Linked DNA regions of Homo sapiens: region 2 is linked to region 1. Evidence: fine-mapped expression QTL. A gene starts in region 1. The other region holds a variant in brackets. All regions are shown on one strand. Distances are from middle to middle.

Evidence for each region. PIP is the estimated chance that this variant, and not a neighbour inherited with it, causes the effect.
Region 2: its variant is the best candidate, but not a certain one, in a credible set for the expression of HEBP2 in CD4 T cells (BLUEPRINT, PIP 0.71).

Annotation. Positions count from the first base shown.
Region 1 is chr6:138,400,994-138,406,371 of GRCh38, reverse strand. It overlaps HEBP2 (heme binding protein 2), which reads right to left and starts at 2,149. Exons shown (of 4, transcript NM_014320.3): 1 at 1,775-2,149; 2 at 1,092-1,227; 3 at 221-401. The coding sequence starts at 1,876. It also overlaps the pseudogene MARCKSL1P2. RefSeq lists enhancers at 1,893-2,413, 2,935-3,455 and silencers at 1,684-2,533, 2,664-2,733.
Region 2 is chr6:138,452,334-138,457,711 of GRCh38, reverse strand. The region is part of intron 3 of NHSL1 (NHS like 1); the gene reads left to right. Among named protein-coding and RNA genes, the nearest start is that of MIR3145, 20 kb to the right of the region's middle. The variant CA/A (reference allele first, on the strand shown) is at 2,252.

The DNA of each region.
Region 1 (5,378 bases):
ATGAAGGGCATGCAATAGACTCATTAAATGAAGTGATTATTATCTTGTGACAGACCTCAGTAACATATACAACAAAGCCAGTAGGAAAACATCACAAAATGCATTAGACCTGATTTTATGGAAGGGTGAAAAAGCCTTTTGAAATTGCATTGGAGCTAAACTGTGAGTGCACGCAAGTAAAACTAGCAGTCAGCAAGGCTATAAATTATCTACCACTTACCGTACAAACACAGTCATTTCGGCTCTATCTTCAATGAAGACATCTGACTCTAAAGGCCTGGGTGGATCAAATTGCTGTTCAGAGGGAATATACAGGGAAATGGTAATGGTAGACTCACTAAAAGGACCTGAACCAGGCTCCACGTAGCTTGTCACTGGAGCTGTCATCTTTATTTTCATCTCTGTGACATAAAAATGAAAGCAAATTTAGTGTATTTTTGACAGCTTTAAACATTTAACCTATTCTTTTTTGATCTGGGTTCCTTGATTTACTTCACATTGTTGACATATTTACCTTTAAGATAATTTTCATCTTAAAACAGTAAGGCCAAAATTACTCAATTGCTCACTGCCCACATTAAACCACTTTCTGTAATACTGATATTCTGGGTTAATAAATTCTTAATTTTTAGAGATAAAAGGGGAAATTAGAGATTACATGGTCAGTAAATTATTTTTTCTTACCATTCAGAAAATGAGGTCCCACAGGCTAAGAGACCTGCTAAAATATAAATAGCAGCAAAGCCAGACCAAAAGCTATGACTTGATGCTTCTAATCTTGGTACCTTCTTGCCTCCTGACGTCTCTGATCCTACCAGTCACCAAATTATCTTGAGGTGTTAGCCATAGAAAAGGACTTATCACGAGTTACACCAAACCCCAGTTCATCCAGCAAAATCAGAGAACAGAGGTTGAAAAGTAATACCCAGTGTAACCCTGGTCCTGAGGAGTCTTGTCTGAAAACAAGACAAGTCTTTGATGACTTGCTTATTTTTCCATTATAAAGGATATTTCTTTAATAAGCTAAAACTCAATAATAAGCCCGGGGACTCTTTCACAATATGCATAATTACAAGGAAAACTGCTTTTACCTTTCTCGTTTTTGCCTTGAATGTAGCTGTTCAGTTTCGTAAAGCCCGTCTGGATGGCTGAATCCCAGTCCATAGACTCCACGGACGTGCTGACCCACTTGGCTGGTCCATAGTGTCGGATCTCATAACTTCCGGGCTAAAGTGGAACAGAGAAAACTTCGAGAAGCAATTCTAAGAGGGTAGGAGTGAGATGCAAAAATACCGGTGCCATGATCTCGGGTCGACCTGGAGCCGTCCTGTCTAGGGGCTGCACCGCCCCGGGGTCCGGCCTGAGGTCCCCGCTCCTTAGGTCTGGGAGGTTCCCCTCCACGAGGTTCCCCTCCTTGCGATTAGGGACCGCAGCGGCCCCAACCCCACACGCTGGGGACTCGATTCACACTTTCAGACAAGCATCTATTACACCCCCTCGGTTCGGAGGGTTCCACCGCGCGTTCTGGGACGTAACCAGTTCCTCCCCGCCCCACCACCCCGCAAAGACAAGAAATTGAGATGGGACCTGCACTGGGGGTAGCGGGGAGGGTAGAGCTAAATGACCGGGGTTTCTCGTTTGCGTAGCATAGTGGGTAGGGACTGGGACCATTTAAAAAACTGTACTTTTTACTTAACTCTATGGGACCCGCTGGCCTCACTGCAAATCAGCCGGAAGGCGGGCCCAGCCCCTCCGCTCCCGAGTCGGCGCCTACCTGGGGGCCGGCGTCCTCCGGGGCCTTCCAGCCCGGCGTCTCCACAGCTTGGGCCGCCGCGTCCTCGGCCGCCCCGGGGTCTGGCTGGAGCGGCTCGGCCATGGGCGGCGCTGACGCTCTGGGAGCCTGGTCAGCCGCGCAGAGGCCCCGCACCCCGGGCCGCCCCGCCTGCGTGTGCGCGCCCCGCCGAGGCCCCGAGTCCCCGCTCCGCAGACCCGGTCCCTCCTCCCGGCCGGGCTGGAGACCCGAGCCCACCCGATGCGTCTGCCTCTGGACCGCGAGGGGGCGCCGCCACCAAGGCGGGGCCGGCTCACGACCCCGGACAGCTCCGGCCGGAGTTGCGCGTCCTGCCCCCGCCCCTCCGCGGCGACAGGGAGCCGCACCTCGCTTCGGCCCGCCTTCTTTTGAGGCACTTCCGCCCCCGCCCCGCCTTTGTTTTTGAAGGAAAGGCACACACAGGTGGCCCCGCGGGCAGTAGGGGGTGGCGCTGTTTCTGTGCAACCGGTTTGGGAACCTCTGCCGCGGCCCCGCCCGCGCTGGGAACCGCGGGCGCTGAGCCGCCTCGAGGGTGTCCCAGCGCACCGCAGGCAGAGAAAGGCAGGAGGTGGCGGCTGGCGACCCGACCCCCGCGGCCCCTGCCCGCACTCCTGGGGCTCAGCCAGGGCGAATGGCCGTACTCATCCCAAGAAGTTGTCCTAGGTCCCAGACAGCTTTCAGGGTCCCTTGCGGAGGAGGTGGTGGGACCACAGACACATGGAGAGAATCTGGAACTGTTCTGGTTTCTGAACTTTTCCCCGACAGGACCCCAGACCCTCTGAGTCATCCCCGCAGGCTTAACGAGACTCGGGGAGAGTTAGTGCCGAGGCCAGACACTAGTGCTTTTCAAGAATTTTGGTTACCAGGGCTTTCCCGAGCCGAGTGGGGTGCGGCTCTGTTCCCCAGCACCCCCTTTCCGCCGGCCAGGCCGACTCCGCGTTACTGTCCCCTGCGGCGGGGACCCGGCACGGCTCCGGCGCCCCCCAGAGGACTCCCATCGTGGGCAGCCAGAGCTCCGAGGCTCTCCGGGGCGACGTGACCGCCGCAGAGGCAGCAGGCACTCCCCACGCGAAAGCCAACGGACAGGAGGGTGGCCACGTGAAAAGCAATGGTGACATCCCCCAAGGGTGAAGGGGAGTAGGCCCCTGTGAACAGAAGAGGCAGCCGGGACCATTGGCAATGCCATGGAGCCAGCACCCCCTAGCCAGGGTGCTGAGGCCAAAGGGGAGGCTCCCTCCCTCGCAAGGAGACTTCCAAGAAGACGAAATTGCCTTTCAAGGCCAGGCACGGTGGCTCACGCCTGTAATCCCTTCATTTTGGGAGGCCAAGACAGGGGTGATCGCTTGAGCCCAGGAGTTCGAGACCAGACTGGGCAACATGGCGAAAACCCGTCTCTACAAAAATACAATAAAATAGCGTTGATAGTAGAGTGGAGAGCATAGCTGCCTTCCAAAAAAAAAAAAAAAAAAAAAAAAGCTGAGTGTGCTGGGGTTGTGATCTCAGCTACTCGGGAGGCTGAGGTGGGAGGATCGGCTTGAGCCTGGGGAGGTCGAAGCTGCAGTGAGCCGAGATTGCGCCACTGCACTCTAGCTTGGGTAACAGAGTGATACCCTGTCTAAAATAAATAAATAAATAAATAAATAAATAAATAAATAAATAAATAAATAATTATCTTTCAAGAAGGGTTTCTAAGAGCAGCTTGTCCTTCAAGAGAAATGGGAAGGAGGGTGGGGTGACTCTTCTGCCTCCTCACCTATGGAGGAAGAACAGGAGTGGGGGAAGATCAATGCCTGCAGCGACAAGGGCGCTGCCCAGGAAGGGAAGGCTGTTGCCACCCCTGAGAGCCAGGAGCCCCAGGCCAAGGGCGCAGAGGCAGTACTGCCTCAGAAGAAGAGGCAGGGCCCCAAGCTACAGAGCTGTCCACTCCCTCGGGGCGGAGAGTGGCCCTACACCAGCCCACGCTGAGCAGAATGAGTAGCTGGGTGGGCCAGGTGGGTGATCTCTAAGCTGCAAAAACTGCTGTTCTTGTGAGGTTACTGCCTGGACCTGGTGCCCTGGCTGCCCTCCTGTGCCCAGAAAGGAAGGGGCTATTGCATCCTACCAGCTACATTCCCTTTCCTTCTCTCCCTCCTGTGGATTCTCCAATCGGCCATGTGGCTTTCCTCGTAAGGCCAGTTGAAGACGGTCCCCCACAGCCTCCCAAGTTAGATTAGTGATATGAAATGTGCCTTTCCCTGGCCCTGCCTCCTTCCCTGTCCCCAGCCCTGCAGAAGGCAATTTTTGGTTTTCTTCCCCAATTCTTTTCCAAGTAGGTTTTGTTTACCCTACTCCCCAAATCCCTGAGCCAGAAGTTGGGTGCTTAAACTCCCAAACCTCGAGGGTCCGGCCTCCCCGCTGTTGAGTTTTTACTCTGGTGCTGTGCCTAGTGGCACCTGGGCCGGGCAGGGGGGCACTGCCCTGCCTAGGGTTCTATTCAAGTTCCAACCTTCAGCTTGTGAATCAACTGTGTCTCTTTTTTGACTCGGTAAGCACATGTTAGGCTTTGGGGCCAGGGAGAGGTCTGTAATGTGAAATAACTTCTTCTTGCCTTTTCTTCTCTCATTTTTATGAATAACTTTTAATGGCCAAACCCCAGATTTGTATTCTTTTTTTTTCTAACTGCTACAACCATTCTCTTCCACCTGGTTTTATTATAACAATTGGAAAAGGAATAAATATCCCTTAAATTTTTTTTTGTTAGATGTATTCTTTATTTTTTCCAAGAGATTTATTAAGATATAATTCATATACCATATAGTTCACCCATTTAAAGTGTACTAGTCAATGGTTTTTAGGATCTTTAGATCTGGGCAACCATCATCACAAGGACTGGGCAACCATCATCACAAGGTGAGAACATTTTCATCACTTCCCACCCTTAAAGAAACTCTATAACCTTTAGCCACCACCTCCCAATTCCCCATTCCCTATGCCTAGACAACTACTAATTTGTTCTCTGTCTCTATAGTTTTGTCTATTTGGAACATTTCATATGAATGGACTCATAATAGTACGTGGTCCTTTGTGACTGGTTTCTTTAACTTGGCAAAGTGTTTTCGAGGTTCATCTGTGTTGTGGCAGGTACTCCATTTCTTTTTATAGCTGATTAATAGTCCATTGGATAAACATTTTATCAACTTATCAGATGAGGGACATTTGGGCCATTTTCAACTTTTGGCTATTATAAATAAAGCTGCTCTACATGTTTATGTACATGTTTCTGTGTGCATGTATGTTTTCATGTCTCTTGGGTAAACATCTAGGAGTAGAAGTTCTGGGTCAAATGGTAACTCTATGTTTAACTTTCTGAGAAACTGCCAGACTGTTTTTTCGCCACTTCACATTCTCACTAACAAGGTGTGAGCATTCTATTTCTCCACATCCCCATCAACACGTGTTTTTATCTGGCTTTTGGATTATAATCATCCTAGTGGGTGTATGCTATGGTTTGAATGTTCATCTCTTCAGAAACTCATGTTGAAACTGAATCCCCAATAGGGCAGTATTGAAAGATGGGGCCTTAAGAGGT
Region 2 (5,378 bases), 51 kb before region 1:
ATCTGGAAAACCTTTTATTTTGTATTTCCTAGTAGGTGTTGAGGGGAGGGGTGTGTTACAAAGAGCAGTGACTATATGGAAGAAGGGATGCATGAGTTAACAAATTATTGACTTTAAAAGAGGTATTTCTTACAAAAATCATCTAATTTGCATTCAACAAATATTAAAAATCCATTATGTGCTTAAGATGAGTTGCTAATATGGCAAAGGTTAAGGACATATAAATTAGAAAAGAGAACCTAGAGGACGTCGATTCTGGTTATTTACTCTGGCTAATTGTTCTAGAATAATTATCTTCATTATCCTAATGTGAAACACCAAGTAGGACTCTATGTGTTATGTTATGAAGAAAGATGTTTTGCTAACGAGATCCACACATATCTTTGATGTTCAAAGTGGGAATATAGTGTAGCAAGAAGAAAATTGTTGAAAATATTTCCAATTGTATATGTTATGCATATCATCTAAACATAAACATGATGCATTGAAAAAAATACTGTTGGCAAAGCAATTTAGAAATTCCAGAAAATAAGCCAGGCATGGTAGTGTGTGCCTGTAATCCCAGCACTTTGGGAGGCTGAGGCAGGCGGATCCCTTGAAGTCAGGAGTTCCAGACTAGCCTGGCCAACATGGTGAAACCCTGTCTCTACTGAAAATATAAAAATTAGCCAGGCGTGGTGGCATGCACCTGTAGTCCCAGCTACTCAGGCTGAGGCAGGAGAATTGCTTGAATCTGGGAGGTGGAGGTTGCAGTGAGCTGAGATCGCACCACTCCACTCCAGCCTGGGCGGCAGAGTAAGTGAGACTCCATCTCCAAAAAAAAAAAAAGAAAGAAAGAAATTCCAGAAAATACCTTTTCATTCAACTCTGAAATCAAAGAGTACACCATTGCTTTGTGTACTGTTTTTGACTTTTTTCTCTTTTCAGTTTTCAGCATATGCCAAGTACTGCCAAAGAGGTTCTTGCATTTGAAGGCAGGTCAGTTATCAGTGCGAAAATACTTACTGTGAGTCGATAGGGAATTTTTCCACCTGCCATTATCGGAAGTTATATTTGATGATACGTTCACTGAATCTGGGAAACCTTCACAGAATCCCCATTGTCTTAGCAGAAAGGATATCAATCATGAGTTATGCAATCTCTTGTGTAAAATTCACCCCTAAAGAGATGTATTAGATCTAGATTTTTGGCAGTAAACAGTTGGCTTTAATAGTCGTGACAGAAATCGAAATTTCCCTGTTTCCTGTTATTCTTTGAACTGGCATGTCAGCTTCTGTTTTAGGCTTTGTTGATAAGAAATATTTAAATCAAAGGAAGACTTTGAAGAAAAGGCAGTAACCTTGCTGCCATACCTGTAAACACAGGAGGCTTATTTAACATGATGCTTGAGAGCGTAGGTTTGGGGCAGCTTTTCCACCTGTCAGAGCTCAGTGGCCTTGGATAAGTTGCTTTCGTCTGTGAGGTTCAGGTTCCTCAACTGTAAAGAGATAAAAACCACATGTTCCGGTTTGCTTAGAACAGCCCTGGTTTACAGCTGTTATTCTGTGTAATTATTAATTGCACCCCCTTTCACTCTCAGAGGTGTTCTGGTTTCGATAAAATTACATAGTTACCCTAACCTACCTTGGAGAGTTGGTGTGAGGTTGAAGTAAATTAATGTTTGTGAAACCCTTAGCACAGTGCCTGGCACAGACTAGATGCTCAGATGATGATGATAAGTATTGTTAAGCTGATTGGTATTTCAAACCACGCTTCAAAGAAAATGATTCAATAGACAATGTCTGTTTTTATAAAAATTTGGCCACTCTCCCAATCATCTCGTCTTTTGTTCCACCCACATAGAATTTCCTGCCCAAGGCAATAAATTTGAGAGGTTTCAGCAGCTACTGACGAATTTCTGATTGTCATGGCTTTACAGGTTATCTAGGTGTGGCACTACCAGTGTTTATGCTATTGCTAGCTTGTTCATCGGGGTACACGTTAGGATATAGAACTTTTTCACAAATTAGATCTTATTTTCCACAAACAGCCCCATGAAACAGATTATTTTAATAGCTATTACTATTATTTTAATCTGGAAATGGAGACTCAGAAATATGAAATGGCTTTCTCAAGATCACATAGCTCGAAAGCACCAGGAAGCATGCGAAGGCGGGGCTCCTTGCAGGGAGCATGTGAAGGCGGGGCTCCTTGCAGGGAGCATGTGAAGGCGGGGCTCCTTGCAGGGAGCATGTGAAGGCGGGGCTCCTTG[CA/A]GCTCATTTCTTTTCATCGCACCATGCTGGTTAAGCAAAAGGGCAAGATTACTCAGTTACCTCAATTCCTCCTCATTATGCCCAATTTTGTCATCTCTTATTCCTCTTTGACTTGTCTGGTATGCTTCACTCAATTTTTTTTTCCCCCAAAAAAGTTTTTAAGTGCTACTTGGTCTCAGTATATGGATCCCATTCTTGGCCTAGGGCAGCTTACAGTCGAGAAGTGATTACTCCATGTCCAATCATGTGTTACTGGGTCTCTGTGAGTAATTTCAGGAAACTGTAGAAACACAAATGAGTCAATGCTCACTGCTCTGCAGTTATGGCACCTTCTTATTCCATGCCATTGCAGACAAAAATGAGAAAATTGGGGTCTGTCATTCCCACGCCTTTTTGCCTGCAAACCAGTGAGAATGTCTCCAATGACCCATTCCAGTTTCTCTTGCTGTTTCCATCCCACTACTCTATAATCAGGGTCTGTTTATACCTGCCTTCTCTTCTAGATTAATGGACAGCATCCCTATCTTGTTGATCTCTGTGTTTCCAGTATGATGCCAAGCACTTGGCACATGGAAAGGCTCAGGCGCCAGGGACTGTGCTCAGTGCTGTATGTGAATATATTCAGTATTTATTGCAACCATGCAAAGTAGCTTTGATTATGCCCATATCATGGATGAGAAAACTGTATCTTGGAGAGATTAGATCACTTGCCTAAGATCACATAGTTTTTAAATACTGAAACAAGATCTTTCTTTATTAAAACGCCTTTTATTGAAGTATAACTTACATAAAATAATCTATACATATTTAAAGTATACAACTTAATAAATTTTGACATATGTATACACACAGGAGACCATTACCATAATCAAGAGAGTGAACACATCTATCACCCCTAAAAGCAAAACCAGGATTTAAACCTAGACTTACGACTCTAGAGCTCATGTTTTTCCCCCAGTAATGACTGTATGGGGAGTAGAGCCTTTGCCACAGTCCTTTCCTCCTAACCATTCTCATTCTCTTATGGGGAGTTTTGCATTGTTGAGATAATACAAAGAGCATCTTTTACAACCCAATTGTCCATCAATAAAAAATGTGAATAAATTAGTACTGGAGTGGAATGTATACCCCAGTGAAATGAATGAATTACAGTTTCACACAACTACATGGATGTGTCTTAGAAAGATAATAGTAAGAAAAACACAAAGAGAATAATACTATTTTTGTAAAAGTCAAAGCAAGTTTATGCACGCACGCACACACACACACGCACACATATAACAAGGAGTAATTAGGAACACAAAATTCAGGCTAGTGGTCACCTCTGGGGAAGTAGGGAGATGGGATGGGGCATGGAGGGAGATGCAGGTTTTTAGTAATATTTTAGGTCATGGGTTGAGTAGTGAGTTCTTGAATATTCATTATGTTATATGATTTTAATACATAATTTGTTATTCTAAAATATGATTACAAACAACTTACTGTATCAGTTTAAACATATATGTTCTAATTAAGTATTTTCTTTCATTTGAGGAAAGGATCGCTTAATATGGGATAGTTAAGATCCAAAATATTTTAATTCACTGTGTGATAAGAAAGTTTAGAGCTCTTAGGGCCTGGTGCAGTGGCTCAAGCCTGTAATTCCAGCACTTTGGCAGCTGAGGCAGGAGGATGGCTTGAGCCTAGGAGTTCAAGACCAGCCTGGGCAATGTGCAGGACCCTGTCTCTACAGAAAGTTTTCAAAAATTAGCTGGGCATGGTGGCTTGTGCCGGTCATCCTAGTTACTCGGGAGGCTGAGGTGGGAGGATCGCTTGAACCCAGGAGTTTGAGTCTGCAGTGAGTTGTGATTCTGCCACTGCACTCTAGCCTGGGTAACAGAGTGAGACCCTGTCTCAAAAAAATAATAATACAATAAAAATAAATGAAAAATAAATAAATTAGCCAGGGACGCTGATGCACATCCATACTCCCAGCTACTTGGGAAACTGAGGCAGGAGGATTGCTTGAGCCCAGGAATCTGAGGCTGCCATGAGCTGTAATCACTGTGCTGCACTCTAGCCTGGGCAAGAGGGCAAGACCTCATCTCAAAAACAACAACAACAAAAGAAAGTTTAAAGCTCTTGATAAAGCAATTAGATTTGAGGTAAAGGGACTAATATAATACATATGAAAGAATGAACAATTAGGCTGGGCATGGTGGCTCACGCTTGTAATCCCAACACTTTGGAGGCTGAGGCGGGCGGATTACCTGAGGTCAAGAGTTTGAGACCAGCCTGGCCAATGTGGTGAAACCCCATCTCTACTAAAAATACAAAAATTAGCCAGGCATGGTGGCACGTGCCTGTAATCCCAGCTACTTGGGAGGCTGAGGCAGGAGAATTGCTTGAACCTGGGAGGCGGAGATGCAGTGAGCCAAGATTGCGCCACTACACTGCACTCTAGCCTGGGCGACAGAGTGAGACTCCGTCTCAAAAGAAAAAAAGAATGAACAATTAAAGTTACTTAATAATATGGATGTGGAAGTCACCTGTTGGCCATCATGGAGTTGCTGGATGAACCATGAACTGTGCTTCTACATGGATTCATTTCCACTACCCCCACTTTTTCTGTTGTTGTTGGCGCCAGGAGAAAAAAAAAAGAATGCACAGAGAACAGAAATCAGTGAGGGTCTCTTGTGTCTAAATCTACTAAAGACAGAAGAAACATATAGCCAAAAGGCTGCAGACGTTTTGGCACCCTATGAAACTATTAAGGATCTTGAAAACCAAGAGTCAACACAAGAGGTTTAATTCTGGGAGGAAGAGCATCAAAGACTAAGTGTCTTCCAAAAAGGACTGGAATGTATGTGGCTGTCTTCTTAAAGACATCAACTATATAGTTCTGTATAGTTGATATGTTCTATATAGTTTCATCTGTTCTCTATTTTCATGTAATAATTCTAAATGAATACTAAGTTTAGCTCTGGCTATAATTCAGTTTTCTAACTTTTACTAACAAATCAAAACAAAAAAGACTGAATTAATCTGTGTTTCTTAGTTAATCCCACTTTTGGATCAGTTGGCTCTTCTGAGAAAGAGAGCATATTTCGTATGAGAATATATGGGAAAGAGACCCTATTTCAGGCC